Linked DNA regions of Homo sapiens. The protein of the gene in region 4 purifies or fractionates together with the protein of the main gene of each other region. This does not show direct contact. Each region holds a gene or a part of one and is shown on either strand. Other genes may lie near its edges. The genes, in order: G3BP1, LARP1, PAIP1 and PABPC4.

The links.
Region 1: the proteins of PABPC4 (region 4) and G3BP1 purify together in Homo sapiens (affinity purification with mass spectrometry; 4 studies listed by BioGRID and IntAct, with this or other methods). This does not show direct contact.
Region 2: the proteins of PABPC4 (region 4) and LARP1 purify together in Homo sapiens (affinity purification with mass spectrometry; 3 studies listed by BioGRID and IntAct, with this or other methods). This does not show direct contact.
Region 3: the proteins of PABPC4 (region 4) and PAIP1 purify together in Homo sapiens (co-immunoprecipitation; 3 studies listed by BioGRID and IntAct, with this or other methods). This does not show direct contact.

The regions. Positions count from the first base shown.
Region 1 is NC_000005.10:151,774,348-151,782,176, forward strand, and holds part of G3BP1 (ras GTPase-activating protein-binding protein 1), read left to right. Parts: intron 1-7,829. UniProt on the Homo sapiens protein: Protein involved in various processes, such as stress granule formation and innate immunity. Plays an essential role in stress granule formation.
Region 2 is NC_000005.10:154,751,264-154,758,983, forward strand, and holds the start of LARP1 (la-related protein 1), read left to right. Parts: upstream 1-4,113; 5' UTR 4,114-4,494; coding exon 4,495-4,930; exon of another isoform or gene 4,931-5,259; intron 5,260-5,890; exon of another isoform or gene 5,891-6,027; intron 6,028-7,720. UniProt on the Homo sapiens protein: RNA-binding protein that regulates the translation of specific target mRNA species downstream of the mTORC1 complex, in function of growth signals and nutrient availability.
Region 3 is NC_000005.10:43,539,875-43,547,703, reverse strand, and holds part of PAIP1 (polyadenylate-binding protein-interacting protein 1), read left to right. Parts: intron 1-4,587; coding exon 4,588-4,700; intron 4,701-7,829. UniProt on the Homo sapiens protein: Acts as a coactivator in the regulation of translation initiation of poly(A)-containing mRNAs. Its stimulatory activity on translation is mediated via its action on PABPC1. Competes with PAIP2 for binding to PABPC1.
Region 4 is NC_000001.11:39,573,350-39,582,121, forward strand, and holds the start of PABPC4 (polyadenylate-binding protein 4), read right to left. Parts: upstream 3,442-8,772; 5' UTR 2,603-3,441; coding exon 2,410-2,602; intron 1-2,409.

The DNA.
Region 1 (7,829 bases), on a different chromosome or scaffold from region 4:
TTTTTTTCCCACTCGTTCTAGTATTTTGCATAGAAAGTGAACGGCAGAAGGCAGTTTTAAGTTTTTGTAAAAGTTTGTGAATTTTATATCGTCCTTAGGACTGATGGGGCTAGTGTTAAAAGATAAAATTTAACATAAAGCTTACATTTGTGACTAAAGCCAATTTTATATTTTTTTTCTTTATTTTTGTCAGTCTGATAAAACTGCCCACTTGGTCTTTTAACATTTTGCAAATTGATTTTTTTTTTAACTTTCAGAATTTAAATAGGCATTGTATGTTTGTTTAATTATATTGTGCTTTGGCTTCCTTGGACGAAACTATTACTGACTTTACAAAGAAGAATGGATAATTGTGGAAGTAGGTAGGTCAAAAAAAAAAAGGAAAGCCTCGCCCGCCCCCCAGTAATTTGTCAAAAGCAAGTGGGAAAAATCTCTGGTAGTGCAGTACTGCCCTTCCAGTACTCCAGTACAAGCCCTGGAGTTGAATTTAGATTCAGCAACTATTATCTTACATGTAGTTGGTGATCACAATGTGGTGGCACACTAGGTTTATAATTTTATATCTCAGAAATCAGCTATTTACTTTTTTTAAAAAAGTATTCTTGGACATCCTGTCTGTCTTTAGTTGGGAAGGTCAAGTTGCAAGCCAGGTGATAGGGTTAAGAGTAGGAATAATTCACACACACGAATAGTGTCTTAATATTCTGTCTTACAAGGTGGAAAGCAATTTCAAAAAAATTGCCCTCACAGCCTGTAGCTTAGTAAATAAGGTCTTTAGGCGACTTTGTGATAGAGTCCCTCTTCTGTCAGGTGGCCAGTCTGTCATGTAATAAGTTCTTGGTATGTGTGTTGTATCTTAGGTACTTAATCAAAAGTAAAGATTAAAGATGATTGACAGAAATTTGGCTTCCTGGATGGTATACACATCTACTTAGTAGGGATGTAATCTTTGGTGGCTATTAACTTCACTGGCTATATAAAGCATCATTATGTATTTGTGTAACCTTTTGCATATTTAGAGAGTGCTTTCACACATCTTTGGTATTACCATACTTTTACTAAAAAGTGAATTGGAGCTCTGAAACCGAATTGTCAAAACTATTTTGAAAAGCATGTGGTACCTAATAGGGTACTATAGCCAGCTTATTTCCTTAATTGAAAAATCTTAGAGGGATTTTGAATCTGGAATGTATGAATGTGACACCTGCCTGCCCTTGCAGGCTTCTCCCATATGCTGTTTATGCAAAGCCATAGGCTGTGCCTTAAGTACACCCTTGTTTCTGCACTGAGGTTGCCTAGATTTCCCTGGAGTGTATCCACCTGTCTTGATCTGTTTAAGAATTTTGCGGATGAGCATTAGTATTAACTGTAACATATCTTTTCACGTGATGAGAAAGAACAAAGATTTTTTTAAATTGTGAACCTGAGTAGGTTTTAACTTTGGAGTGGGGAAGGGATACACTAAGATAAAAGATAGTTGTTAAGTATTCTGATTCCTGAAGTTTTTTTTCTTTCAGGAAAACAGTATTTTTGAGATAAAGTAAGATTTGTGGAAGAGTTGCAATAGAGAGGTCTTGAATACCCATTATCCACTGTTAACATCTTATGTAATCCAAGTACATTTAACAGAACTGAGAAATTAACATCGATAAAATACTGTTAATGAAAGACTTTATTTGGATTTCCTTAGTTTTTCTACTAATGTCCTTTTTCTGTTCTAGGATCCAGTCCAAGATGCCACATTGTATGTAGTCTCCTGATCTGTGTCAGTTTCTGTCTTTCCTTTTGTCTTTCGTGACCATGACACTTGATCTCATTTGGATTTGATGTTAAGGATTAGACTGAAGTTACAGATTTTTGGGGGAAGAATACCACAGAAATTACCCTTATCACATCAGATTGGGGGTCCATAATATATAACTGGTTGAATTTAACCTGATGATTTGGTTCAGGTGGTATCTGTCAGGTTAGTGTTTTTTTCCCCTTTAGATACTATTCCTTAGATGCTAGTCACCAAGTCCAGCTCACACTCAAGGAGAGAGGGGAATTAGGCTCTACTTTCTAGAGGGAGGAGAATGTGAATTTGTGGAAGTATATTAAAGCTACTGTTATTATTTTGGGGGAGATGCTTCGAAGCCATGGAAATAAAGTTCCCCTCCTTAATTTTAGCATTTTAATGGATCTCGTCTGCAGCTATTATTACTTCGGGGTTCTAATGGTGATTTTTTTTATTTTCCTCATTCCTTCTACAGTATAAATTTTCTGTGAGGAAGATTTGTGTATTCTTCATGTTTTTTCTTTTTTTCATTTATATCACTATAGACCACGGATATTAATTTTATTCTTTGGGTTGTAATCCACAATTATCCTTGCTGATGTTTACTTATTTTTGATTATTATTTATTTTATATTTTTATAAAATATCGTCCAGGCTGTCTCACACTCCTGGGCTCAAGCAATCCTCTTGTCTTGGCCTCTCAAAGTGCTGGGATTACAGGTGTGAGCCACTGTGCTGGCCACAGTTTATTTTGTTGTTCATGTTGTTCCAGCTTTTTTTTTTTTTTTTGGCTCCTTTGTCCTTTTGACACTTCCCTATCTTATCTGTTTTTTAAAAGCATGTTTTTTCTTTCATTAATTACCAGGTATTTCAGGCTCATCTTGCATTTTGCCTGTCTCAGGTCCAGAATCAACCATTTCTCCAAGGAGGCGTCAGGAAGAATTGTGAAGGGAGGTGACAGGTGGTAAATGCGAAGAGTTTGGAAAAATAGATTGACAGTAGGCCCAGTGATGTTGATACTTTTCTTGCTCTGAGCACAGATGTTGGCTTCTGTATTCATGTTACTCCAGTTCTGGGAAAAGATTTTGTTTCTAAATTCCCACGATTTAGAGAACCAGATATCAAATGTTTGAATACATGACATAATCCTGAAACAAAATTTACAAAAATTTAATATATTCTCAAGTTAGTACACACAAACACTTGCTGTTTTTCCTTGGTGTTTTTGACAACTTTTTTAAAGTAAAAAGACCACTTAAATACTATCGTACTCAGAATTAACATTTGACATTTTGCATTGCCCTCTAAGACTCCTTTTTTTCTATACGGGCTTCCATTCCCTTCCTTCCAGGGATCTTTTTCACATCTTTCCAGGCTGTTTTATTGATGGGGAATTTTTAAAAATAGCTTTATTGAGGTATAATTGACAATAAACTGCATGTTTTTAAAATGTACTGCCTGATAATTTCAGACACCTTTTGTAATCCCAGCTTCTCAAAAGACTGAGGCAGCAGAGAGGATTACTTGAGCCCAGATGTTTGAGGCTGCAGTGACCTATGGTCATGCTACTGCACTCCAGCCTGGGCGACACAGGAGACTCTTAAAAGAAGGTATACCCATGAAACCATCACCACAATCAAGATTGTGAACCTATCCATTACCCCCAAAAGTTTTCTCATGTCCCTTTTCCCTCTTTCTTGCTTGTTCCTTCCACCCTTCTCCCTGCAGGAAATCCTTGATCTTTTTATCACTGTAGATTACTTTGCGTTTTTTAGAATTTTTTTGTAAATACATTATGTTCTTTTTTTAATTGCTCAGTGCTAGTCTGTTGTGTAGGCATATCACAATTTTTTGGTTTACCTGTTGGTGGGCATTGAAAAACGGCAGAAGCTGTGTGTTTCCAGCTTTTTGACTGTTACAAATAAAGCTTCTGAACTTTGTGTACAAGTCTTTGTATGGGTATACGCCTTTATTTCTCTTGGGTAAATGCTTAATAGGGGAATGTTTAGATCATGTAGTAGATGTATGCCTAACTTTTAAAGAAACTCCCTGTTTTCCACAGTGGTTGTACCATTTTACATTGCCACCAGCGATGTTTGGGGGGTTCCAGTTCTGCCAGTATGTTGGCTAACAGTGTGTATGGTCAGTCTTTTTAATTTTAGTCATTGTGACAGGTGTTTAGTGGTACCTCACAGGTTTTAATTTGCATTTCTGTAATTGCTAGTGATCAGCATTTTTCATTTGGCATTCATATAATTTCTTTGGCGAAATATCTTTAAGTCTTTTGCTCATATTTTATGGGATTGGTTACTTAATTATTAATTTTTTTGTTTTGAGACAGTGTTTCGCTCTTGTTGCCCGGGCTGGAGTGCAGTGGCGCCATCTCTGCTCACTACAACCTCTGCCTCCTGGGTTTAGGTGATTCTCCTGTCTCAGCCTCCTGAGTAGCTGGGATTACAGGTATCCACCACCACACCCGGCTAATTTTTGTATTTTTAGTAGAGATGGGGTTTCACCATGTTGGCCAAGCTAGTCTCGAACTACTGACTTCGGGTGATATGCCCTCCTCGGCCTCCCAAAGTGCTGGGATTACAGGCATGAGAGTACTTTATATATTCTGGATAGAGGTATTTTAAAAATTAGAGATATGGGTCAGGCGCAGTGGCTCACACCTGTAATCCCAGCACTTTGGGAGGCCGAGGCAGGTGGATCACTTGAGGCCAGGGGTTCGAGACCAGCCTGGGCAACATGGTGAACCCTCATCTCTACTAAAAATACAAAAATTAGTCGGGCGTGGTGGTGTGTGCTTGTAATCCCAGCTGCTTGAGAAACTGAGGCATGAGAATTGCTTGAACCTGGGAGGTGGAGGTTGCGGTGAGCGCCACTGCACTCCAGCCTGGGCGACAGTGGAAGATTCCTTCTAAAAAAAAAAAAATCAGTCAGTCAATCAATCAGGTAAATGCCTTGCAAATATTTACTCCTAATCTGTGGCTTGCCTGCGTGCCTTTTCATTCTTTTGATGGTGTCTTTGCAGGGCAGATGGTTTTAATTTTGAGGCAGTCTACGTGATCAATTCGCTTTCTTCTTCATTTGCTTTTGGTGTGTCTAAAATCTTTGCTTAGTGTCATGCAAGTTTTCTTTAGAAGTTCAGTTTTGGGTTTTACACTTTGATTACACTGAATCATTTTGAGTTAAATTTTGTATGTGGTGTGAGACATGAATTGAGGTTCTGGTTTTTTTTTGTTTTTTCCATATGATATCTAATTGTTTCAGTACCAGTTGTTGAAGAGAGTATACTTTTTCCACTGAATTGTCTTTGCACTTTTCTTGGAAATATAGTTGTCCATGTGGATATGTTAGTGAACTCCATTCTGTTTCATGGATCCATTTGTCTCTTTATGTCTAGCCTGTGTATCTATGTACGGTATCTGGTATTTGTGTATACTAAAAACACTTTTAAATATATGTAACGTTATCACACAGTACATATTTGGCAACTGATTTTTCTTTTTAATAATGTTTTTGAGTTATGTGCTCGCTTTCTGGCAGGCATAAATAGGGTGACATATGTCTTGGTTTGCCAGGGACAGTCCTGATTCACTTCAGTTAACCTGACACTATTAATAGTAGTTGTTTTCAATCTTAAAAGTGCTCTCATATGGTTGTCTTAGGTATAGAAGTTTCCCTAATGTGAATAAACCACAACTTAATATCCATTCCTTATTTGATGGACATGTAGATTGTTATCAATGTTATACTTTACAGATAGGGTGGCAGTTATTTGTTTTTGTCTTGTGTGAGTTTGTTTTGTCTTGGGTGAGTTTCTTTTGTATATGTACCTAGAAGAGAACTGCTAGATTTTCATCAGAGTGTTTTTGATTTTATTAGATAGTGCAAAATTGTTCTCCACTGTGGTTGTACCAGTTGAGACTTCATCTTCAGCAGTCCTGTAGGCTCTTTTTTTTACTTGGTTGCCAATGTTTGGTGTTGACTGAGATTTTAATACTTTGGCGCATCTCTTGTAAGGTATCTCCTGTGAGAAGTGATTTTATTAATTGCATTTTCCTGGTTACTTACTCTGTTTTGTTTGCTGTCCATTTAGTACTTTCCTGAGAATTGGCTGCTCCATTTCATTTGCCTGTTTTTCTCTTGGGTTACTCTTTTAGTGATTTGTATGCAGGTTTATATACATTCTACTAATCTTTTATTATATGATATTATATTTTCTTACTATAAAACTGGCACTGAAAATGGGCTATGAAGGCATTTGGCTACTTTTTATTTTGTTGGAGTGAGCTTTGCCATTAAAAATGCAGGTGGAGTATGGGCTGCCTTTATGTTTCCCTGCCCGTCTGTTAAAAATTGGAGGATAATGCTCATAGTTATTTCCCCCTCCGCCGCTAGCTGATGGAGTCTTGCTCATTCGCCTAGGCTGGAGTGCGGTGGTGCGATCTTGGCTCATTGCAAGAGCTCCGCCTCCCGGGTTCACTCTGTTCTCCTGCCTCAGCCTCCTGAGTTGCTGGGACTACAGGCGCCCACCACCATGCCTGGCCAGTTTTTTTGTATTTTTAGTAGAGACGGGGTTTTACCGCATTAGCCAGGATGGTCTCTATCTCCTGGCCTCATGATCGCCCACCTTGGCTTCCTAAAGTGCTGGGATTACAGGTGTGAGCCACCGCGCCTGGCTGATAATGCTCATAGTTCTTTAGACCCTTAACATTTTTCTGTTAACTTCAGCACAATTATTGATGGGGAGTTTCTTTGAAGTTGCTTTGCAATCTGGAAACTTGGGATCAAGTGGAAAATTTGAAAGTTAATGTAGTACAGTTGAACCATGAACAAACGTGGGTATGAACTGCTCAGGTCCACTTGAGCAGATTTTTTTCAATGAATATATTGGAAAATTTTTTTTGGAGATTTGTAACAATTTGAAAAAGCTCACAAACTGAATAGCCTAGAAATAATAAAAAAAATTAAGAAAAAGGTATTTCATGAATGCATAAAATATATGTGGATACTGTTATTTACTACTGTAAAATATACACAAGTCTATTACAGATTTATTACAGAGTTAAAATTTATCAAAATGAACCCACACAAACACTTTGAGACCATTCAGGGCACCATTTGCAGTCAAGAGAAATGTAAACAAATGTAAAGATACAGTATTAAGTTATAACTGCATAAAATGAACTTTAGTATATACTGTACTATAATTTTTTTCCTAGCCACCTCCTGTAAATATTGCAATGTGCTTGTGTTGCAAGTATCTGCTTACAACACTGTGTGATGCTAATCATCTTTATGTGAGCAGTTCTTCTCTCCAGTAAATTTGGATGCAGTAAAAAGTGATTTCTCTTCAATGAGTAGTTTTCATCATGTTTAGTACAATACTGAAAGCCTTGAATAACACCATGGGACCCATACGAAATATCACTAATGATGCTGAAAGCACTCCCAAGAAACAGAAAAGTTATGACATTACAAGGAAATATTAAATTGCTTGATCTGTACCATAGGTTGAGGTGTGCAGCTGTGGTTACCTGTCATTTCAGAGAGACGATTTGTCTTTTAAACAGACAGCATAAACATATACAATACTGAAAATGTATTTTGCAAATGATTTTCTTATTTTCTTTAGCTTTATTGTAAGAATACAGTATATAACCTACAAATAGTTAAATGATTGGTTATATTATTGGTAAAGCTTCTGATCACCAGTGTGCTATTAGTAGTTAAAATTTTGAGGAGTCAAGTTATACACAGATTTTCAACTCTGGGCTATCCATGCCCCTAATTCTCACCTTGTTGAAGGCTCAACTGTAGTTCATCCAAAAGGTAGATACAGTTTTATGTTAAATGCTTGGGATTTTTTTTTTTAACTCCTTTAGGAAATTCTCCATTTTAATCTCTAGGAAAATAAGGAAAATATCCATCCAGGTGACACAAGAGAGTGGGATGTAGAAATGGTTTTCTTCTTTATAGTTAATAATTTTGATACTGATAGTAATAATAGCTAACATTTATTTCCTGCTTACTGTTAGGCACTTAA
Region 2 (7,720 bases), on a different chromosome or scaffold from region 4:
GCTGCCTATGATGCTGAGTACCCACCTTACTTTCTTTTCTGAATTTCAATTGCCTTCCTTTGTAATTTGAAGACAATAACCATTCCAGGACCTAGCCTGTAGTGCCTGGCACATAGTAGGGGCTCAGTAGACATTTAAGGAAATAATAACTATCCCACTGGGTTATTATGAAGATTAAATGAGATAATGAATATCAAGTATTTCCCATAGAACCTAGCGTACACTAGTTACCCAATAAAAGTAGCTACTCCTGACTATTTGGTCATTACTCCTGACTATTTGGTCATTACTAAATGGTCATTACTGACTATTTGGTCATTACTAGTCCCCTCTTATCTGTGGTTTTGCTTCCTGATGTTTCAGTTACCTGTGGCCAACTGTGGTCAGAAAATATTACATACAATAAGATGTTTTGAGAGAGAAAGAGCACAGTCACATAAATTTTATTACTGTCTATGGTTATAATTGTTCTATTTTATTATTTATTGTTGTTTATCTCTTACTGTGCCTAATTTATATATTAAACTTTATTATAGGTAAGTATATATAGGAAAAACATAGTATATATAGAGTTTGGTACTATTTGGGGTTTCAGGCATGCACTGGGATAAGGGAGGATGACTGTATTTAGAAATATATGCATATAAAATACCATAGTTGGTTAGGAATCAAAAAAACCTGAATTCAAATCCCAATTCCATCATTTTTTTATTAAAACTTAAAAAAAATAGAGACAGGGTCTCACTGTGTTGTCCAGGCTGATCTCTAACTCCTAGGTTCAAGTGATCCTCCTGCTTTGGCCTTTCAAAGTGTTAGGATTACAGGTGTGAGTCACTATGCCCAGCCCCAGTTTCATTATTTTAATGTAGAAAAAACTACTGGATTTAGGATAAAGAGATTCAGGTATGAGACCTAGCTCTGTCTGGCTCTGCTGTGTGACTTTGGATAAGGAACTTTACTTTTCTTTTTCTTCCTTTTTCTTTTCTTTTCTTTTTTTGAGATGGAGTTTTGCTCTGTCACCTAGGATGGAGTGCAGTGGGGTGATCTCGGCTTACTGCAACCTCCGCCACCTGGGTTCAAGCAATTTTCATGCCTCAGCCTCCTGAGTAGCTTGGATTACAGGTGTGCGCCACCATGCCCAGCTAATTTTTGTATTTTTAGTACAGACAGTGTTTCGCCATGTTGGCCAGGCTGGTCTTGAACTCATGACCTCAGGTGATCTGCCTGCCTCAGCCTCCCAAAGTGCCGGGATTACAGGTTTGAGCCACTGTGCCCGGCCTTGGACTTCACTTTTCTGAACTTTGGTTTCTTCATCTGCAAAACAAGGAGAATGAGTAATCATTATGATTCCTTTTTCCAGTTCTAACAGCTTCTAAGCCTAAGATGTTGTCTCGGCCGGGCATGGTGGCTAACACTTGTAATCCCAGCACTTTGGGAAGCTGAGGTGGGCAGATCACCTGAGGTCAGGAGTTTGAGACTAGCCTGGCCATTATGGTGAAACCCCATCACTACTAAAAATACAAAAATTAGCTGGGCATGGTGGCGGGCGCCTGTAATTCCAGCTACTCAGGAGGCTGAGGCAGAAGAATTGCTTGAACCCGGGAGGCGGAGGTTGCAGTGAGCTGAGATCCCACCACTGCACTCCAGCCTGGGCGACAGAGTAAGAGTCAAAAAAAAAAAGATGTTGTTTCACACAGGTCTCTTACTTTCTCTGGCCCTAGTTTGTCTCTCTCTGGGGCAGAGCAGGCCCAGGGTAGGCAGATCTCAGTACCCCTCCACCCTCTACACAGCAGGGCCTGGCCATGCTTGTTCAACCCTGTTTCTGACTGCTGAGTAGCATGAACGAGTTTCTTGTCCACACAGTGCCCTCGTACCCTCACGAGTTCTCAGGGGTCAGGGGAGGGTACTTCTCTACCTCCAATTACAAAAAGAACAACTAACAATAATAATTATGTCCCCTATTAACAAAGTTTAGAGAGGGTCTAGAGTGAATAATCTCTTCAGGGATTACTTATCAATAAATTTGTAAAAATAAAGCTGTGCATGGTGGCACGTGCCAGTGGTCCTAGCTACTTCGAAGGCTGAGGTAGGAGGATGGCTTGAGCCCAGGAGTTTGAAGCTGCAGTGAGCCATGATCACAATGACTGCACTCCAGCCTGGGTGACAGACCTCATCTCTTCAAATAAATAAATAGTGCATTTCAGTGGCAATGTGCAATAATTTACCTTCTGATTAAGAGTACATGTAATGAACTTAGTAGATTCCTGGTTTAATTCATTGAGTAACATTACCTTCCTTGGTAGCTCTTTTGACGTACTGGCTTGTCTATAAAATTTACACAGCACCTTGACTAACATTGTCTCACTTGACCTTCACATGAGCTCAGAGGGTGGAAGCAAGTCAGGCATTATTTACCCCCATTTTTCCACCAGGAGAGGGGTCCAGGGAAGTGCGGCTAGCTGGCCAAGGCTTGGAGGCTGAATAACCCAAGAGTTGGAAGTAGACATGGCATTACCTGGCTATCCCTACCAGTACTTCTCCCCCATACTGGTTACAACAATCCTACAGCTCAGCTTTGCTGGCTGGGGCAGTTCCAAGAGGCTTTTCATTCAGTCTTCTCCTAGATCCAGCAGGTCGTGTGCTCTAATTCTTGTTTTGGAGATGGCCAACATTCCAGGCTGTTATGTTATGTGAGCACGTGGGATCACAGCCAGTCAGAAGCCAGGACTTCTCCAAGTGAAGTCATAAGCACCAAAGGGATCTTGCTAGACACGCAGATTTCTGGGTCCAGTCCCAGACCGAGCCTGATTCCTAATACTTTGGCATCTGCGTTCAAAGAAGTCTTCCCTTATCACCCAAACAAAAGTAGCCCATCTAGTCTAACTGATTACCACAGTTTAACTATTGTCTTCATAGATACTAGACAATAATTTATTACTTGTTTATTGTCTCTTTCCCCACCTTAGAATAAATTCCATGAGGATAGGGACTTTGTTAGCCTAGTTTATACCAAACCCGTTTCCTAGAACCCTGCAAGGCCCCCACAGTACGAGGTCAGTAAGTATTGAATCGAATGTACACTGAAGTTTGAAACTGCTGTCATACACTGCTCCTTCATTTTACAATAGAGAAACTGAGGCCCACGAAGCTGGAAGTCACTGCTGCAGAGATGGTAAGGGGGCAGGGCCAGGATAAAATCTCAGATCTCAGAAGTCCCAATCCAGGGACGGTTCAACTCCGCCCAAAGCAATTCTTTAGAAAAAAAACGACATCCACTTGAAAGAAAAGACATTTCCTGCCCATAAATACAAGGTTTCGCGGCGGGGAGAAGGGCCTGGCCTGGGTGAGGGCTTTAGTAATTCCGTTCCCACTTCCTAGGCGCCGGCTGCCCGCAAGGGCTAAAGACTCGCTTTCCAGGCCCGGAGTTGAACCCATCTCCGGGTAGTGTCGAGGCCAGGCCCAGCGGCGGCGAGGCGCGGAGCACAACCCACTGAGGTGCGGACGGCTCACCCAACCAAGGTCACCCGGGCGGGGACCGAAGGGGCCAGGCCCGCCGGGCACAGGGGAGGGGGCGGCGTTGGCGCGTCCTCGGGGCGGATGAGGGTCCTCCCTTCGGCCTCCTAGAAGTCAGGAATGACACTAATGGCTCCTTCCCCTGAATCTGACACCCAGCCTAAAGAGCACGAGCAGGCCCGGCAGGCCGCGTGGCCGGGTCCCATGTGCTCCACCTGAGGCCGCTCTCACGCGCTGGCCCTTTAAGATACCTCCCCTCCTCGCCCAGCCTTCTCTCCTATCCCCGTCAGCGCCCCCACCGACAACTCCCGAATTGCATCAGGCACGTGCTCGCCCCCGTCCGGTCTGAGCGTCCCTACCCCCAGCCCGGGAGGTGCTCTGAGGAATCGGAGACGAGGGGCGGGGCGAGGGGCAGGACCGCGTAGCCGTGCGCGCGCCGTCCCGCCGCCTCCTGCCCGCCCGTCGCCCAGGGCCCGGCCAGCGGCGCGCCCCCGCTGCGCCGTCCCCTCCCCTCGCCCGCCGCGTCGTGAGGCGCGCGCCCGCCCGCCGCCTGCCGCGGATCGCGTGGTCTGCTTGGCTCGCCGCGCCTCTCCCCCGTCCGTCCATATTGCTGCAGCCCCCGAGCCGGGAAGCCCGGGCCGCCCCGGGGGCGGGGGGGAGGGAGGGACGGGACTAGAAGCCTGCCGGGCTCGGGGTGGGGGCGTCTTGCGAGGAACGGGCGGGGGGGGACGCACGCCTAGGAGGCCTGGACTGCAGAGTGGGGGGCCTTCCTCCCCCCCCGCCCCGCTAGTGGGCCTCGGATTTACGGCGGCTGCATCTAACTGGGAGGGGGCCGCACCTCGCGTGAACCCCGACCCTTCTCTGCAGGGACTGGGGCCCAGCGCCCCGGAGGAAGGCGTCGCGGGCGCTCTGCTAGCCAAGTTCGAGGCGGGGGAGGCAGCCTCGGGCGCGCCCGGCTTCTCCGGGGGGGCGGGCGCGCAGATGGCCACTCAGGTGGAGCCGCTGCTGCCTGGGGGCGCCACGCTCTTGCAGGCCGAAGAGCACGGGGGGCTGGTGAGGAAGAAGCCGCCGCCGGCGCCCGAGGGCAAGGGCGAGCCCGGGCCAAACGACGTCCGCGGGGGGGAGCCGGACGGCAGCGCTCGGAGACCCCGGCCGCCCTGCGCCAAGCCGCACAAGGAGGGCACCGGGCAGCAGGAGCGCGAGAGCCCGCGGCCGCTGCAGCTGCCCGGCGCCGAAGGCCCGGCCATCAGCGACGGGGAGGAGGGCGGCGGCGAGCCAGGCGCTGGCGGAGGAGCTGCCGGAGCCGCGGGCGCGGGGCGCCGGGACTTCGTGGAAGCCCCCCCGCCCAAGGTGAACCCGTGGACTAAGAACGCATTGCCGCCGGTCCTGACCACCGTGAACGGACAGTCCCCCCCAGGTGGGTCTCCCTCCTTGCCCTCCTGGGTCCGGGGGCCTCTTCCGGGGACATGGGAGTCCCCTCCCCCAGCACCTCCAGGGCCCCGGGGTCTGCTACCGGTCATGGTGACTCGGGACTTTTTAAAATTGCCTCCTGGTTGATCCTGGTCGCCGCGCCCTCCCCCCCACCGTACACTCAGGGACCTGCCCCTGCCCGAGGGCCCGGCCTCCGGGAGGCTACGGCCACCGCCTGGGCCGCAGCGGTTAGTGGGCAACGGTGTGGTTCGGGCCTACCTCGTCGGCAGAGGGTGGGCGCTGGTTTCAGTGAAACGATCCCCACCGCATGCTGGTGTAAGAGACGGTTTCTGGTTTGAACCTTCCTCTGGAAGCCCCTCTTCCCACCCCGCCCGGCGCTCCCCGTTTTGGTAGCGTTGCGAGCGTCCCCATGTTGTAAATGTTTAATGAGCATATGTCACGGGCAACCCAGTGCCCGGCGCGGAGTACATGCTGGCCGCACGGATGCGGGGATTAAAAGTTAACAAGTTTTGTTCTCGGGGAGATGAAATTGGGCTTTAGAATCGCCATTTGGAGACGGGTTGAGGGGTCAGTTGTGGGGAGAAGAAACCCATCGTGTCATCGAATTCGGTGGTTTCCCTCCCCGATCCCGGGCACCTTCCGCCTTAAGAAGGAGCCCGATGGCGAGTGTGCTGGGGGAGCCAGTTAGGAGGTTGGCGGAAAATGTGAGGCGGGTGAGGGGCCTGCGGCGACTTGAGGGGCGTGTGGCGGCGGGGGAGGGAGTGGCCGGCCTGGGCGGGCGGGTGACAGTTGGGCGCCATGCGCCGCGCCGGCGGCCCGCGGGCCGCTCGGCCTCGGCGTTCGGTGCGGGCCGCGGCGCTGGGGGTGGCAGGAGGGTGCGGGCCCGCGGCGCGGCCCGAGTGTGCGTGTGCGCGGCGCGGGTGTGTGCGCGTCCCCCCTTCCCAGCATTCCTCTGCAGCCGGGACAACGTGGTGCCTCCCCGCGCGGGGAGCGGCATGTGACTGCCGACCGGCGCTCCGCGAGTCCTCCCTCTCCCTCCTCCGCGTTTTGGTCCTTTTGGACCGTGCCCCTTTCCGGGGGGAGGTAAGGGGTGCAGGAAATCCCAGCAGAGCCGTGTCAGCGTGGGGGGAGAGGCGGTGCAGAATATGGAGTCTGCTCTTGCATTGCCTTTGCCGAGAATAGATCGTCGGCTTGGGTGGGGGGGGCGCGCCCACTCTCCTCTCTCGGCCGGCGTATAGGGCGGGTCTCCATTCTTTGGTTTTGGGTCCGTTTGTGGTGGGTCGGTTTTAAAATTGTCTTGCAGTTGGAATGATGGCCTCTGGTCGTAGCCCTGGTGCTTTTAAAAAACTCACCTGCCGTAGCTGGTTGAGGCTAACTGGTTTAAACCATCAAAAATAAAGGGGGAGCTTAATGTCTTCACCGTCAAAGGAGTAGAAGCACTGCTAGTCCTAGGGAAGCCAGAATAGCCAGTCCTGAAAACAGCATGTTGCAATTTTTATTTCTTTTCAGGTTGCTTCATTTGGAGGAGGGGACATTTGGGGTTTACTAACAGTCCTTCATACTGTGTTCTCTTCCTTCCCCCCTGCTCCCCTTCCCCCCTGCTCCCCTTCCCCCCTGCTCCCCTTCCCCCCTGCTCCCCTTCCCCCCTGCTCCCCTTCCCCCCTCCTCCCCTTCCCCCTTCCTCCCCTTCCCCCCTCCTCCCCTTCCCCCCTTTCCCTTCCAGAGCCCTTTTATGCAAAAGACAGTGCTGAAACCTCCGTTTTCTTTCAGTCCCTCCTATCCACCCACAGAGTGAAGGAAAACAACTTTAAAACACTCTTTGGTCCTTCTCCCCTCTTTAAACTCAAAAGGGTATAATCATCCCCGGGAGAGAGCACTCCTTTTAAATGGGGCTACTCATCCTGGCTTGGCTAATGGTGAACCTACCTTGTGGGTTTTAAATCAACCGTGACATCAGGTGGTATTGGGTGCCTGAGCTGGCATTTTGTGTAAGTCCAGGAGCCCTTGATAGTGTGCGTCACTGGGGTTATTGATCGTGGGAAGAAGACAGCTTGGCTGGCATCTCACCTTTTCCTCTGAGTGGAGAAGCTGACTTGCTTTAAGTGCCCAAAGCAAAATTCTGAGTAAGGGTAGATTTGCTCTGTTATTGTTTTTTGGAATCTTAAGGCAAGAGAGTGTCTACTTGTTGGTTTAGAACCTTTGGAATAGGTTTTGACAGCCTAACTCAAGTTAATCCAGTAGCTTCTCTCTCTAAGCCTGTTGTTAGGGTTTGTGTGCATTTTGAGAGAGAATTCTATGATTGGGTTGTCAGTCTGGTAAGGCTAGATGATGACCCTTTCTCTGGAGCCTACGTGGATCTCTGAAGTGCTTTTCCAGCCCTGGTTTTATTTACAGCTTCGACAAATTTAAACGTGACACTAGTGGAGTGGCTGTGTGGTCTTGGGAATTTTTGTGTTCTGTGATGCACATGTTTTTGGGAGTCTACAGAAATGAGTACCTCATAAGCAAACTAAAAGCTTTCCAAAGCTTGCTGTAAATGCCTATTTTTAGCCTTACTTTTGGCTCAAATGTTGGTGTTTTAGTTCTTTAAGGGACACATGCAGTAACTAGTAATAAAATATGTTTCGTGATATCTCTACTTTCTTGTGGGGTTCTGTATTCTGGTTTAAGCGTCCAAGTCTTACATTTGTAGTTTTAAGTCTTGGGATTTGCATTTTGGTTTTTTAGATCTCCCTCCCTCCCCAGAGTATTTTTAAATGTTTAAAATTTTTGTCTT
Region 3 (7,829 bases), on a different chromosome or scaffold from region 4:
GACCTTCAGATAGCTTCCTTGAAGCCCAAGGATAGTGGCTACTCCTTGAGGGAGACCAGATTCATGATCACCTGCCTCCACACTTACTCTTTATAGTTTCCGGGAGTTCTAAGTCTGTCTTGTATAAAACTCCTATAGTTAGGGATCCAAGGGTAGAGCCAGACAGGATTGCAAGTTCACATGTGTAGTCAAGATTCAATATAGGTAATATTCACCTGTTTAGCCAAAGCTCTATACAAGCAGTATAGTATAGAAGGTGATATGGGCACTGAAAACGAAGGCTACATAAGTGTCACCCCCACCAAAACCCTGCCCCTTGTTTTGCAGGCTCTGAAATTAGCAGTACCAGAAAAGACTGCAATTCTTTTCCCCTATGTGTTGAATTGAATAGTAGTATTAGAGTAGGGGAGGAAAAAAATTGAGAGAATTTGCTTGCCTCATAAGTAGGTCTTTAAAAAAAAGAAAGCCAAACCATAAAATGTCTTGTCTTAGCATTTCTACTTGCCTTTGCTTTCTTTTAAAATTTAAGGATTTCATCTTAATTCCTTGAAAGTCTAATTTAGTCAGTTGAAATTGTTTCATTATACAACATTTAGTTTTTATCCCAGCATATTGGTCATTAACATATTAACGCTTTTTTTTTTTTTTTTTTTTTTTTTTTGATATGGAGTCTTGCCCTGTCTCCCAGGCTGGAGTGCAGTGGCGCAGTCTCAGCTCCCTGCGACCTCCGTCTCCCGGGTTCAAGCGATTCTCCTGCGTCAGTCTCCCAGGTAGCTGAGATTACAGGTGTGCACCACCATGCCCAGCTAATTTTTGTATTTTTGATAGAGACAGGGTTCCACCGTGTTGACCGGGCTGGTCTCGAACTCCTGACCGCAAGTGATCTGCTTGCCTTGGTCTCCCAAAATGCTGGGATTTTACAGACATGAGCCGCTGCACCTGGCCTCATTAATGCTATTTTAAAAGTGAAAAATACAGTAGACAACACTGGCTTAACACAAAATTTCTTAGTCAGTGTGAGACTGGTCAAAAAAAATGGGCCATGATCAGAAATGTAAACTTTAGGTTCTTTAAGTCACTGTTACAAGAGCAACTCAAATTTGGAATATATGGAAGGGAGATTATAATGCAAATTAATGATTATTTTCTATCCTAATGTTTCATTTGGCTGCTTTTCCAAGTTATTCTGGATGGTTACTGGACCCCAAGATTACCTAGCCAACTGTCAGTTTTGAGGAAGTACCTGAGATGTTAGGAAGACAGAACTGCACTGTTTGTCCTCATTTCTGCTTTCTGCTGATAAATGGATTGAAAAGGAATATGAGATAAGAAAATGAAACAAATGTATTTATTTCTTGTTGCCTTTCTGGCTTCCTCCACTATTTAGTTTCAGTTATTCAGTAGGCTGCGTAATTATACTTATTCAGGGCTGGACAAAGGGTCAGTAACCTGATAAGCGTCAACTATTTCTCTGATTGTCAAATATGTAGTCAGTATGTTTAATGTTTTAATATTCTATGATCAATGATGCATAGGTTTATCAATAGCTGCTAAGTTTCATTGAGGTAATTTATGGAAATTTACTCATAGCAACTAACAAACGAGGAAGTATTACAAAAGATGACAGATTAGGCCAGGCGCAGTGGCTCATGTCTGTAATCCCAGCACTTTGGGAGGCCGAGGCGGGTGGATCACCTGAGGTCAGGAGTTCAAGACCAGCCTGACCAACATGGAGAAACCCTGTCTCTACTAAAAAAAAATACAAAATTAGCTGGGCTTGGTGGTGCATGCCTGTGATCCCAGCTACTCGGGAGGCTGAGGCAGGAGAATCGCTTGAACCCGGGAGGCGGAGGTTGCAGTGAGCCGAGATTGCGCCACTGCACTCCAGCTTGGGCAACGAGCGAAACTCTGAATCAAAAAAAAAAAAAATGACAGATTAAATACACATTCAACTCTGATATCTCCCAAACACCACTAAAATGATGCTATGGGGATTTTTAAAAGGCGGAAGCTCATAGGGACAGAGAAGAGGAAAAGAAAAGCACTAGTTTTGAAGACTAGAAAGCAGGTGGGTGAGTGGTACCTGATTTGGCAGATCTAACGTTGAATTCCAAGCCAGTGGTGGTAAAGCTGAGAATCACCATGACTTACAGTGCAAAACCTAAAAGGTTCTAAAATAAGGATGGAATGAGGCTAAAAGGATTGCTTGAGAATCTAAAAAGTTAGACCATCCAGATCTTTTTACACTGAACAGCCGGTTTGAAATTTTGTTGTAACCCTTCTTATGAAATTAACAAAGGACGTACTCTGTCAAAAAGAGGAGTTATGCCACGGATGAAGACATGGGAACCAGGAAAAGGAACTCTACAGGAGAGACTAAGTGAACTGTCCAGATGATGGTTCAAAGGAGATCTCAAAACAATAGCAGCATGCATAGTAGGTCTGAAGCAGCCAGGCTTCACTGGACTAGGTCAGAAGGCTCCAGGAAAGACTTCCGTAATAAGATGAGCACACATGCTGTAAGACATAAGAAGAAATTTACAGAGTAGTGAGTTTAGGGATAAATCAATGAGAAGAATATAAAAGTGTAGTAAAAACTGAATCTAGGGAAGACAAAGTTGTGCAAAAGTAAAAGCAGTGTAATACATGGTTCAGCTATAAATGAAAACACAGCAAATGAATAAAATCATAACCATACTGTGATAGGAGGAAATAGTAGAGTGGGGTGAAATTAAGCAGGGTGAAAGCTAAAAGCTCATCTTCCATGATGGGAAACTGTAAGTTGAGTATCCCGTATCTGAAATGCTTGAGATTTCAAGCATTTCAGATGGATTTTTTCAGATTTAGCATATCCAGTATATAATGAGACACCTCAGGGAGGGTACCTAAGTATATTACAGCTGAAGGGGGTTGACAGGGTCTTTTTTCCTTTGGGGATGCTGAATAAATTATGTGTTGTACACCTGTGTTTTGACTGACCTGTCACATGAGGTCAGGTGTGGAATTTTCCACTTTTGGCATTATGTGGACACTCATATTTTCTGTTTTTGGAGGATTTTAGATTTTTGGACAGGGATGCTCAAGTTGCAGTAAGAAATAACATCTAAACTGAAAAATTACGTAGTGCGGAGATATGGGGATTAAAACATTTTTGGCTGAAGAAGTCAAAAGTGGTTGTCTTTGGGAGTAAAACCGGGATGTAAGTAGGAAACTGTTGAATGACAAGCCTTATAGAACTTGTCTTTAAATCGTGTTATAACACTAAAAAGAAGCTAAAGGAAAACATGCAGTGCCAATAATGGGAAAAATGTAAGGGTGAACCAAGTCTTGGGTACCAGCTAAACATACATGATGTCAGGAGAAATCACTCTTTCTCCCTTAATGTGACATATACTGGCCCCATGTGAGCAAGGAAATAATTAGAAATAAAAGTTAGTAAGTAGACCCAACATATAGAGTCAGAGGGGTAGCAGGACATTTGTTAGATCTAGATTCTATGTTCAATTACATTTGTGGCCAAGTCCCTTAGCTTTTTTTTTTTTTTTTTTTTTTTTTTTAAAAAGATGGGGGCTTTGTTTTGTCACCCAGACTAGAGTGCAGTGGCGTGACCACAGCTCACTGCAGCCTTGAACTCCTACACTCAAGTGATCCTTCCACCTCAGCCTCCAGAGTAGCTGGGACTACGGTGCATGCTACCGTGCCCAGCTAATTTTAAAATTTTTTTATAGAGATGGTGGTCACACTGTGTTGACTAGGCTGGTCTTGAACTCATGGCCTCAAGCGATCCTCTGGCCTTGGCCTTCCAGAGTACTAGGAATACAGGCATGAGCCACTGTGCCCGACTTCTTAACCTTTTAATGTGTGTTTTCTTACCTAATATTAGATGGTAAACTATGTTCTCTACTATTCTTTAGAAATTGCAATTAAAGTTAAACTTGCTGAACACTGCTTCAGTTATATCAACAATCTTTGATGTGTAGTGTTTTCTTACTTTTTTTTTTTTCTGTTTTTAAGTAGCTTAGCTGTTTTCATTTCCCCTTTACCCAATCATTCTTGGAGTGTTTAAGTGTTAGTTGCTTGTGCCAGTTACCATTAATCACCTCTTTAAAGTCTAACTGAAGCTCAGGGAGGTTTACTGATGTCCAAAGTCATGAAGCAAAATGCCAGGGAATCTTGTCCTGGACTGCCAAACACTAAAAAGTCTGTGCTTTCCTGCCCCAAGAAGCCCCACTGGTCAACAGTTTGGCAGTATTCTCATTCATAATTGTCACTGTGCAGTTGAGGACATGTACAGGTTTTCTGCAAAAAATGGGTTAGCATCAGGAGACATTATCTCTTCGCTTTCTGGTAGCCTCAGGTAACTGATGGGTTTTTTCTTTTTTTTTTTTTTTTTGTACTTATTGTGGTTCTTGCTGTAAGGTTGGGAGGGAAAGTGAATTTAATTTCCTTAAGCCTAACAATGACAAAAGACTTGTATATATGGTCAGTTTGGGGAGTCAATTTTTTCTTCTTTAGAATGTTGCTGTTAAGTATTTACATTAATAATGATGTACCTATGTCATATAACACTTTTCTTCTTTTTAAAAGGCCACATCTATCCCAAATTTCTCTTATATGGGAGCTCGCCTGTGTAATTACCTGTCCCATCATCTGACAATTAGCCCACAGAGTGGCAACTTCCGCCAATTGCTACTTCAAAGGTCAGTGTAAATGTGAAATTAAAGGAAAACTACTTCTAAATATACTAGAATTTGACCATTCCTCAGACCATATATTATAAAAAGCTGCAGGAAAGAATAGGGCAGCCTATTCTTATGTGCATTATATTTGAAGTTTATAGTTCAGTATACCAGTCTTTTTTCTGTAATGGTCTGTGAATTTGGTTTTGTGTTTAGAAAGATCTTTCCTTTTCCAAGATCTTAAAAATAAACACTTATGTAATTCTTATTACTTTGGTAGCTTTGGTTTGAATAAGGATCTAATTTTATTTAGATTAGAATAAAAGTGAATAATCCATTTTTCCTTATTGATTTGAATTGCCACTTTTATCACACTTGCATTATTTGGGTTTTGATTCTGGATTTTCATTCCATTTATCACTTATTCTGTTCCTTTTTATTACCATACAATTCATACAATAGCTATTAAAAAGCTTTTTTTTTTTTTTTTTGAGATGGAGTCTCACTTTGTCTCCCAGGCTGGAGTGCAGCGGCACGCTCTTGGCTCACTGCAACCTCTGCCTCCCACAGGTTCAAGTGATTTTCCTGCCTCAGCCTACCCAGTAGCTGGGACTACAGGCACCCGCCACCATGCCCGGCTAATTTTTGTATTTTTAGTAGAGACGGGTTTCACCATGTTGGCTAGGCTGGTCTCAAACTCCTGATCTCATGTGATCCACCCACCTCAGCCTCCCAAAGTGCTGGGATTACAGGCATGAGCCACCCTGCACTGCCAAAAGCTATCATTTTTAAAAATATCTTAGGGTAATTAGTTTTTTGTTCTTTTGTGGGATTTTTTTTTTTTTTTCCGAGACCGAGTCTTGCTCTGTCACCCAGGCTGGAGTGCAGTGGCTCAGTCTTGGCTCACTGCAACCTCTACCTCTGAGGCTCAAGCGATTCTCGTGCCTCAGCCTCCCCAGTAGCTGGGATGATGGGTGCGTACCACCATGCCCAGCTAATTTTTGTATTTTTAGTAGAGATGGGGTTCACCATGTTGGCCAGGCTGGTCTCGAACTCCTGACCTCAAGTGATCCGCCCACCTCAGCCTCCCAAAGTGCTGGGATTACAGGCGTGAGCCACCACGCCCAGCCTGTCAAATATTCTTTGCTATGCTTGTTTCGTCTAATGAACTTTAGAATCAGTGTTTGAAATTACACAAGTCTTGCTAGTATGTTAGATATTTTGGAGATAATACTCAATTTATAAGCTAATTTAGAGAAAACTAGTTTTCTTATAATTTGATGTCTTCAGTAACAAGGTTATCTTCAAGTTTATTATAGTTCGTCCATTAGTTTTTTAAGTGACTTTTAATGATTGCAAAGCATTCCATTGTGTGGTTAAACTGCAGTGGAACAGAATAAAGATTCTAGAAGTAGACCCCAGAGACCCTTGAAAATTCAAGCTTTTGATAAAAAGGATAAATTGTGCTGGTAGCATAACTGGATAGTCATTTGGGAAAAAAAGATGAGTTCCCATCTCACTCTCTGTGCTGAAATCCCAAATATGTCAGAGACTTATTAAAAGTGAAATGATAGGTGGGGCACAGTGGCTCATGCCTGTAATCCCAGTACTTTGGGAGGCTGAGGTGGGCGGCTCACGAGTTCAGGAGATTGAGGCCATCCTGGCTAACATGGTGAAACCTCATCTTTACTAAAATAACAAAAAAAAACCCTAAAAATACAAAAAAAAAAAAAAAAGCTGGGCGTGGTGGCGGGTACCTTTAGTCCCAGCTACTTGGGAGGCTGAGGCAGGAGAATGGCGTGAACCCGGGAGGCGGAGCTTGCAGTGAGCAGAGATCGCGCCACTGCACTCCAGCCTGGGTGACAGCCAGACTCCGTATCAAAAATAATAATAATAATGAAAATACTTGGAATAGCGCCAAATAGATATAGATACAGTTTGGAAAAATACAAATGTCAAAGTTATAAAAAGATATCTAACCATACTTATAATTAAAGAAACACAAATTATAGCTTCTGTAAAGATTCAGAGTGGGTACTTGTAGGCGGTAGGACGCCAGGAATGCTCACTCATATTTTTCAGTGCTTCTCACCCCCGGCTGTGCCTTAGAGTTACCTAGATACTTAAAGCCGAGATCCTGTCTGAACCCTTTGAAATTCTGGTGTAATTAGACGAGGTGGAGCTAGGACATGGTTTTTTAAAGCTTCCCAAGTGATTCTACTGTATAGCTATGATTGAGACCCACTCTTCTCATTGACTGTTACCCACCATATGTGCTTCTGTAGTACTGTAATCCTGTCAATAATAATGTAGAGAAATACTAGTGAGCTAACAAGTAAAAAGCAAAGCATAATTCTGCTACCTCTTTAAAAAATATATACATACTTTGAAAAAGATGGAACGGAAGTTACCTTCACAGCAGTTATCTCTTGTTTTTAGTAGTAGTGCAGGTGACTTTGTTCTTTATACTTTTTCTGTTTTAACCTTTCCAAAATAAACATACATTGCTTTTATAATTGAAAATCTTTAGCTTAAAAATTTGACTTTTCACCTAGTCAATTATGTAGGTATTTGTTTGCATGTACATAATCATATCCTAACGTACAGTCTGTCATAGCATTTTATGAAAAAAAAAGTTATTTCATCAACTCTTACCGACAAAGTTGTAACAGAAAAGCAGCCAACAGGTGTTTTTAAATAACTGATTTGGCATTAATTAACTGATCTCTTCCATTATTAACCAGAATGTACTATCTATAAATATCCCAACTTTTTTCTGATGAGGAATTTAATATGTACAAGATGATAACAAATATCTTACCACATTTGACTTAAACAGAAGATGTTGCTCAGTTAATATACCTCGTAAACATTGGAATTGGCCACGTAAGCACAGTAAGCTGTGCTGGGGTTTCGTGGTTGGCAAACTGACCCAGAGTCAATTACTGAACAAGAGGTAATTTATTTTTTCTTTGTTAAAAATTGTTTACAAAGTCAACCTAAACTGGCTGCGTGGAAACCATTCAGTACCCATAGCTTTTCCCTTTGTCTTGAAAAGGAAAACTGTCAAAACCAGTTTTGTGAAGCAAGTTACTTTCCCAGAGTTTTCTCACCTTATCAATAAAGATTACAAATACTTAATAACAAAAT
Region 4 (8,772 bases):
AGACAGTGCGCAGATGGCAGGCCCTGCACCCACCTTTTGAAGCCTTAATGGAAGTTCTGTAGAATTCTAGGACTTCAGCTACCCTGGGTGCTCAACCAACTTCCCCATCCAACACCTTGGAATGCTTCCTTAGCTTCCCAACCAAGTCCGTGTGTACACCAGAGACAATTTAAAGAACCAAAGGCTGGGCTGGGTATGGTGGCTCACTCCTGTAATCCCAGCACTTTGGGAGGCCAAGGCGGGTGGATTACCTGAGGTCAGGAGTTCGAGACCAGCCTGACCAACATGGTGAAAACCCCATCTCTACTAAAAATACACAATTAGCTGGGCATGGTGGCGGGTGCCTGTAATCCCAGCTACTCAGGAGACTGAGGCAGGAAAATTGTTTGGACCCAGGAGTCAGAGGTTGCAGTGAGCTGAGATCGCGCCATTGCACTCCAGCCTGGGCAGCAAGAGTGAAACAGTGTCTCAAAACAAACAACAACAAAAAGAACCAAAAGCTAAAAAATAACACCACCTGCCAGCCAAAACACTTCTCATCACTAATCGCAACAAGGATGCCCAGATCTGGTGGCCACTTTTCCTTAAGGCTATGATGGCATCTCCTAACGGTGACATCACCCAGAACCTCCTCCATGAGGGGATTTAGACAGGGTCAGAGCAGTGGAACCTGCTCCTTGCCTCAGGACAACATCTCACTTAAAGGGGGGACAAAATTCCCCAACTCTGCCGCTCCACAAGCTCAACTGTTTCATTAGCCGGGAGAATTTATTTTCACTCATTATTTCCAACAACTTTCCCCACCCCCTTCAGAAGGTGGGCCTCATCTGTGTGGGGGGTAGTTGGGAAAAGGGGAGATGACAAGACCGATCCAAGTCAGGAACAGTCCAGGGAAAGAGGACTTTGCTTGTGATGGCTATCAGAGATAGATAGCTGGGATCGCAAACTATTTCATTAATTAGCAGTAAAGGAGCCCACTTCAACAACAGCTCCTCGTCTATTTCCAGACAGCACTGCACAAGGCAAGCCGGCTTAGTCTGACAAATCTGGCTGCACTTATTTATAGCAGGGAGAAGTCCTGCAGAAGTATGTGTTGGCAGACACACTGACCAATAGCTTCTGCTATCTCTAAGTGACACGACTTTTGTTCAAAAGTCAGTAAGGCAGACAACAGCTAATGTGGTACATTATCCCTTAAAAAGACCACACTCAGCTACCTTTGCGCTCCTATGGCCATGGACAGAACTCAGCTTGGAGCACACTGGATTGACAGTAGCAATACCTAGTCCCTCTCAACATGTCCAATTCTCTGGTCTCAGCCGCAACCTGGGCAGGTAGTAACTCTGGGCCTCAGACAGAAAACAAAGGGGGGACCCCAAAACTAGGGACCTGGAGATGCTTTGCCATAGAATGGCTTGTTTCTCCCAGTAATGATCTCTGCAGTTGTTCCCTTTTAATCTGGAGTCACGTGCAGCCTCTGATCAGGTTTCCTCTGGCCTCCCTCCTGCCACGCCTGCAGCATACCTCTCTCCATGCTCCACGCTAAGGCCACAATCTGAGGTGGCAGAGCACTGTGCTGGGAGTCCTAACTTGGCTTCCAACTTTTTGCATTCGTTCTCCTTCTCAGGAGTCCCATTTTCTTCAGATTAGATGAAATAAAAGGGCTCTGACTAGTGCAAAGCACTGTTACAGCTGAGGTGACAAATGACACCAGATTTTCAAGTGACGCTTCCCTAAACTACCTCCACGACACTCTACAGCACAGAGCCTGGATACCATTTGTCCAGAGTAAAGCACTTCTCCACTCCAGTGGCAAACACACAGACCAAGGAGGTGGCCTGGCACACGCAGCTTTTGTGGCACTAACCTAAGTCTCTGCGAAAGTTTAACGCACAGAAACCTTCCCCCTGCTTCCTGCCTGCCCTGACTGATCCTTTATCAGCACAACATCAGGTAGTCAAGGTTAGTAAAGGTGGCGGAGCGGGCAGGAGCTTTACAATGTAAAACTTTCGCGGGGAATTGTGTTTCAAACGTCCCGCCTTTTTGGCCAGCCTGTGAGGGGCACAAGCAAGGATCTCTAACAGCCCAGCCCCACTGACAAGGACCACACGCAGTGGAATGCCAGTGGCTTCACTCTAATCCTGTTTTACAGTCTCCTTGGTTTCCAACCCCACTACCAGCAACACTAATAAGTAGCCCAAGGTCACCCAGTTAGCAAGTGGTAGAAACAAGATTGAAACTCGAGTCATCTGATGCCAGGTCCGCGTTCTCAATCTCCGCACCCTGCTCCCAGCTTCGGTGGCAACATGCTGTCGTGATGCCGCCCTCCTCGGCAGGAGGGCCCTGCCAGAAGACGACTCCCGGGGTCCTCCGGGCTCCCACGCACGTGTGGGCACAGCTTCTACTCACCGTCGGCCGGCTGCTGGAAGTTGACGTAGGCATAGCCCAGGGAGCGGCGGGTGATCATATCGCGGCAGACCCGGATGGACAGCACAGGCCCCGCGGGGCTGAACTTTTCGTACAGCATGGCCTCGGTGACGTCCGAATGCAGGTCGCCCACGTACAGGGAGGCCATGGGGTAGCTGCTGGCCGCAGCGTTCATCTCCCCGCCCCCCACCACCCCGAGCCCCGCCAGGAGGACTTCTTATCGGGCCCGCCGCAGGACAAAGGGGCGCCTTCGGAGCCCGGGCCCGCGCCGCGGCTCACAGGTGGCACCGGCGCGGCGAGGACGAGCTGGAGTCGGCGGGCTTGGAGACGGGACGGAAACGGGAGGCGGGGGCCGGCTCCCACGGCCGCAGCACCGCAGACAAAAGGCTCTCCGCACAATACGGCCCTCCCCGCGACTTTGCACTTCTCCGCGGTCCTGGTGCGAAGCTCCAAATTTCAAAAAATCAAAGTAGGAAAAAAATTAAACGGGGAATCCCCTTCCGAAGGGTAAAAATCCTTTAAGAGGCGACCGGACGCTGCCCACGGCGGCCTCGGGGACACGCGTTTCTCTATAAATATAGGCCTCGGGCTCCGGCGGTTTAAGATTACAACCGCCGGGGCAGAGGGAAACCAAATCTTTGTGGGCGCCGACTCGGCGAGCCCCGGGCGGGCGGCGAAGGGCAGCACGGACACGTGGTGCGCCGGGGCAGGCGCGGGGCGCGGGGCTCGGGGCCCGAGCGGGGGGAGGGCACGGCGGGCCGGGCGGGCGGCTCACCCCCGGACCGACGGACGGAGACCGACGGACGCCAAGCGCTGCGGCGGCGGGCGCGGGGCAGGCCGGAAGCGTACGAAAGTGACTTCCCCGCGGGTTCTCCGAGGATTCGTTTTTTCTTTTCCTTTTTTTTTTTCAGGATTTTGAAGCGTTTTCAGATTTTTTTTATCTTTTTCTCTTTTTTTCCTCAGGCTGCGAAGCCCGAAAGCGGCGGAGGCGGCAGCGACCCGGGGCGGAGAGAGGCGGCCGAGGGAGCCACCGCTCCATTTATACCCGCCCGCCCCGGGCGCTGCTGGTCGAAGGGCGCCTCGCGACCTGGGCGCAGTCGTGCCCGCCCACTCGGCCCGGGGGCCCGAGGCGGGGCGGCCACGCGAGAGCGACCCGGCGCGGCCGCGCGGCGCTACAGCGACCCCTGGCGCCGGGAGGACCGCCCAGCTCGCGGCTGCGGGAGACCCCAGGGCCCCTTTCTATAACAAATAAATCTTAACACCCTCCCACCCATCACCCGGGAATGGAACCTAGGAGCCATTTAACCTGCACACACGCATGAGGTTTAAAATTAAATGGTATGGGGCTGGGTGCAGTGGCTCACGCCTGTAATCCCAGCACTTTGGGAGGCCGAGGCGGATGGATCATGGAGGTCAGGAGATCGAGACCATCCTGGCTAACGCGGTGAAACCCCGTCTCTACTAAAAATACAAAACATTAGCCGGGCGTGGTGGCATGCGCCTGTAGTCCTAGCTACTCGGGAGGCTGAGCAGGAGAATAGCTTGAACCCGGGAGGCGGAGGTCGCGGTGAGCCAAGATCGTGCCACTGCACTCCATCCAGCCTGGGCAACAGAGTGAGACTCCCTCTCAAAAAAAAAAAAATTAAATGGTATGCCAAATTGTGAAATGAAGGTGACATAAAATAAGTTAAAATAAAATAATAGGTGGTCCAATAGGTAAATGTCTGGGTCCAAATACAATAAAGATTTGAGAAGTTTTCAGGATACCGTTGACCTAGAGGTAGAATCGTCAGGAACTAGAAATGCAAGCAGTATCCATGGGTGATGGGATTTTCTGAAAAGATGAGCACATTTTGGTAAAGCTTCAATGAAACCAAACACAAGCATCCCCTCTATTGACATGCTGGTGGCATTCCCGGACATTTAGTTTGTGTTTAAGGGCACAGAAATACTTTCTGTTCCTATGTTTAAAGTTTCTTCTAGGCTTGGATAATTATAAAAAGACTTTTCATCTGCATGAGAGTCTGGCAGGTCATTTGAAAGTCGTATCACAGGCCAGGCGTGGTGGCTCACGCCTGTAATCCCAGCACTTTGGGAGGCCGAGGCGGGCGGATCACTGAGGTCGAGAGTTCGAGACCAGCATGACCAACATGAAGAAACCCCCGTCTCTCCTAAAAATACAAAAAGTAGCCAGACATGGGGGTGCATGCCTGTAATCCCAGCTACTCAGGCGGCTAAAGCAGAAGAATCGCTTGAACCCGGCAGGCAGAGGTTGTGGTGAGCTGAGATCATGCCATTGCACTCTAGCCTGGGCAACAAGAGCGAAACTCCGTCTCAAAAAAAAAAAAGTCATATCACTTTATAGGACTATGTTATATGGGACTGTCCACACGCATTACAAGATATATAGCATCCCTTCTTCCATAAGTGCCAGGAACCACCTTTGCCATCACTGTGAAAACCAAAAACAGAAATTGCCAAAAGACACAGACATCCCCCTTCAAAAGCACTGATTTAAGTAAATGACTAAAGAAATATGTGTATTTATATATTAATTAATTCAAATAAATGGTTAATCTGAGCCTACTCTATGCCAATGTCAATACAGGGGCTGGAGATACCATGGTGGACCAGAAGTCACTCCCTCTCTCATGGAGTTTATATTCTAATAACTATATTAAATCAAGAAACATTGGCTGGGCACGATGGCTCACACCTGTAATCCCAGCACTTTGGCAGGCTGAGGTGAGCGGATCACCTGAGGTCAGGAGTTCGAGACCAGCCTGGCCAACATGGTGAAACCCCATCTCTACTAAAAATACAAAATTAGCCGGGCATGATGGCACGTGCCTATAGTCCCAGCTACTTGGAAGGCTGAGGCAGGAGAATCGCTGGAACCCAGGAGGCAGCGGTTGCAGTAAGCTGAGATCATGCTACTGCACTCCAGCCTGGGTGACAGAGCGAGACTCCGTCTCAAAAAAAAAGGAACATTTATGGGAGTGCTCCTTCTATAGATTCCCTCCTCAGGAAAGTCTTCCTAGACCTCCTGTGGTCTAAAGTAGCCGTCAACATTGTTAATCACTATCACACCAACTTGTCTTCTTGTCTTCAAGCCTGTTATTCCTACCCAAAATTATGTTGTTCTATATCTGTTTACCTGTTTAGTATCTATCTTTTCCACATTGGTATATAAGCTTCATGAGAACAGGAATCTAGAATAGTGCTTAACATAGCACGTACTAAATGTTCAGTAACTGGCCAGGCAGGTGGCTCACACCTATACTCTCAGTGCTTTGGGAGGCTGAGGCAGGAGGATCGCTTGAGCCCAGACATTTGAAACCAGCCTGGGCAACAGAGTGAGACCCTATCTCTACAAAAAAAAATTTTCTTTTAATTGGCTGGGTGTGGGGACACATGCCTGTGGTCTCAGCTACTTGGGAGTCTGAGGTAGGAGGATCGCTTGAGGCCAGGAGTTGAAGGCTGTAGTGAGCTATGATCATGTCGCTGCACTCCAGGCTGAGCAACAGAGTGAGACTCTGTTACTAAAAAATAAATAGATAAATAAATATTCAATATATGTTTGTGTGTGTGTGTGTGTGTGTGTGTGTGTGTGTGTGTGTTTTCTTGTTTTTTTTGTGGGGGGGGTATGAAATCTTCCTCTGTCACCGAGGCTGGAGTGCAGTGGTGCAGTCTCGGCTCACTGCAACCTCTGCCTCCCAGGTTCAAGCAATTCTCATGCCTCAGCCTCCCAAGTAGCTGGGATTGCAGGCATGCGCCACCACACCTGGCTATTTTTTTTTTTGAAACCAACTCTCGCTCTATTGGCAGGCTGGAGTGCAGTACTGCGATCTAGGCTCACTGCAACTTCCGCCTCCCGGATTCAAGCAATTCTCCTGCCTCAGCCTCCCGAGTAGCTGGGACTACAGGTGCGTGCCACCACACCTGGCTAATTTTTGTATTTTTAGTAGAGATGGGGTTTCACCATGTTGGCCAGGATGGTCTCAATCTCTTGACCTTGTAATCTGCCCGCCTCGGCCTCCCAAAGTGCTGGGATTACAGGGGTGAGCCACCACGCCCAGCCTTTTTTTTTTTTTTTTTTTTTTTGAGACAGAGACTTGCTCTGTCACCCAGGCTGGAGTGCAGTGGCGTGATGTCGGCTCACTGCAACCGCCACCTCCCGGATTCAAGTGATTCTCCTGCCTCAGCCTCCCAAGTAGCTGGAATTACAGGCACCCACCACTATGCCCAGCTACTTTTTGTATTTTCAGTAGAGATGGGATTTCACCATGTTGCCCAGGCTGGTCTCCGACTGCTGACCTCAGGTGATGTATTCGTCTCGGCTTCCCCAAGTGCTGGGATTACAGGCGTGAGCCACACACCCAGCCTGTGTATTTTTTTTTTTGTTTTTTTGTTTTTTTTGAGACTGGGTCTCGCTCTGTTGCCCAGGCTGGAGTGCAGTGGCGCGATCTTGGCTCACTGCAAGCTCTGCCTCCCGGGTTCACGCCATTCTCCTGCCTCAGCCTCCCGAGTAGCTGGGACCACAGGTGCCCACTACCACGCCCGGCTAATTTTTTGTATTTTTTAGTAAAGATGGGGTTTCACTGTGCTAGCCAGGATGGTCTTGATCTCCTGACCTCGTGATCCGCCCACCTTGGCCTCCCAAAGTGCTGGGATTACAGGCATGAGCCACTGCATGTATTTTTTTTTAAGCAACAAAGTCTCACTGTGTTGCCCAGGCTGGAGTGCAGTGGCCTGATCATAGCTCACTGCAGCCTCAAACTCCTGACCTCAAGCGATCCACTTTGGCTTCTTAAAGTGTTGGGATTACAGGCATAAACCACTGCACCTGGCCTAAATATTTGTTAAATAAACAAATGAATACTAGGCACAGATGAGCAAAACCCACACAAGCTCTGACCTCCTGAAGCTTATTGTCTATTGGGGGAGCTTATTACCTATATTACTTTGGGCAAGCTAGTTCACATCTCTGACCCTCAAATTTCTCATCTGAACTATACTAATAAACCTTATTAACAATTAAAAGGGTTATTGTGAGAATAAATGAATACATATAAATACACATAAATTGTTTGGATTAATTTTTTTTTTGAGATGTCTCACTTTGTCGCCCAGGCTGGAATGCAGTGGTGCGATCTCAGCTCACTGCAACCTCTGCCTCTCAGGTTCAAGCGATTCTCCTGCCTCAGCCTCCCTAGTAGCTGGGACTACAGGCATACATCGCCACACTGGGCTAATTTTTTGTATTTTAGTAGAGACAGGTTTTCACAATGTTGCCCAGCCTGGTTGCGAACTCCTGAGCTCAGGCAATCCGCCCCCACCTCAGTCTCCCAAAGTGTTGGGATTACAGGTGTAAGCCACCATGTGCCCAGCCTTGGATGAATGTTAATAGCTATTACTATCAAGCTACATTTGTACTAAGAAAGGAGGCGGAGGCCGGGCGCGGTGGCTCACGCCTGTAATCCCAGCACTTTGGGAGGCTGAGGCAGGCAGATCACCTGAGGTCAGGAGTTCGATACCAGACTGACGGACATGGAGAAACCCCATCTCTACTAAAAAAACAAAATTAGCCAGGCGTGGTGGTGCATGCCTGTAATCCTAGCTACTCCAGAGGCTGAGGCTGGAGAATCACTTGAACCGGGGAGGTGGAGGTTGCGGTGAGCCGAGATTGCGCCATTGCACTCCAGCCTGGGCAACAGGAGTGAAACTCTGTCTCAAAAAAAAAAAAAAAAAGTAAAATAAAAAGAAAGGAGGGGAGTCCCTAAATGAAGTCAGGGAGAACAGCATCTATAAAGGCCCTAAGTGCCAGGCGTGGTGGCTGCCGCCTGTAATTGCCTGTAATTCCAGCACTTTGGGAGGCCAAGGAGAGCAGATCACCTGAGGTCAGGAGTTTGAGACCAGCCTGACCAACATGGTAAAACCCCGTCTCTACTAAAAATAGAAAATTAGCCGGATGTGGTGGCAGGTGCCTATAATCCCAGCTACTTGGGAGGCTGAGGGAGGAGAATCATGTGAATCCGGGAGGCAGAGGTTGCAGTGAGCCAAGGTTGTGCCACTGCACTCCAGCCTGGGCGACTGAGAGAGACTCTGTCTGAAAAAAAAAAAAAAGCCCTAAGGGAGACAAACTGTGGAGTTGTGGGAAATGAAAGAGATGGCCTTAAAACACTTAGGATTTTATCCTCAGATCAAAGAGTAAAGCTGCAGGATTTTAAGAGCAAAGTGCCTTCGCTCAAATTACTTTTTTCTTTCTTTTTTTTTTTTTTGTTTTGAGAGGGAGTCTCACTCTGTCGCCCGGGCTGGAATGCAGTAGTGGGATCTCCACTCACT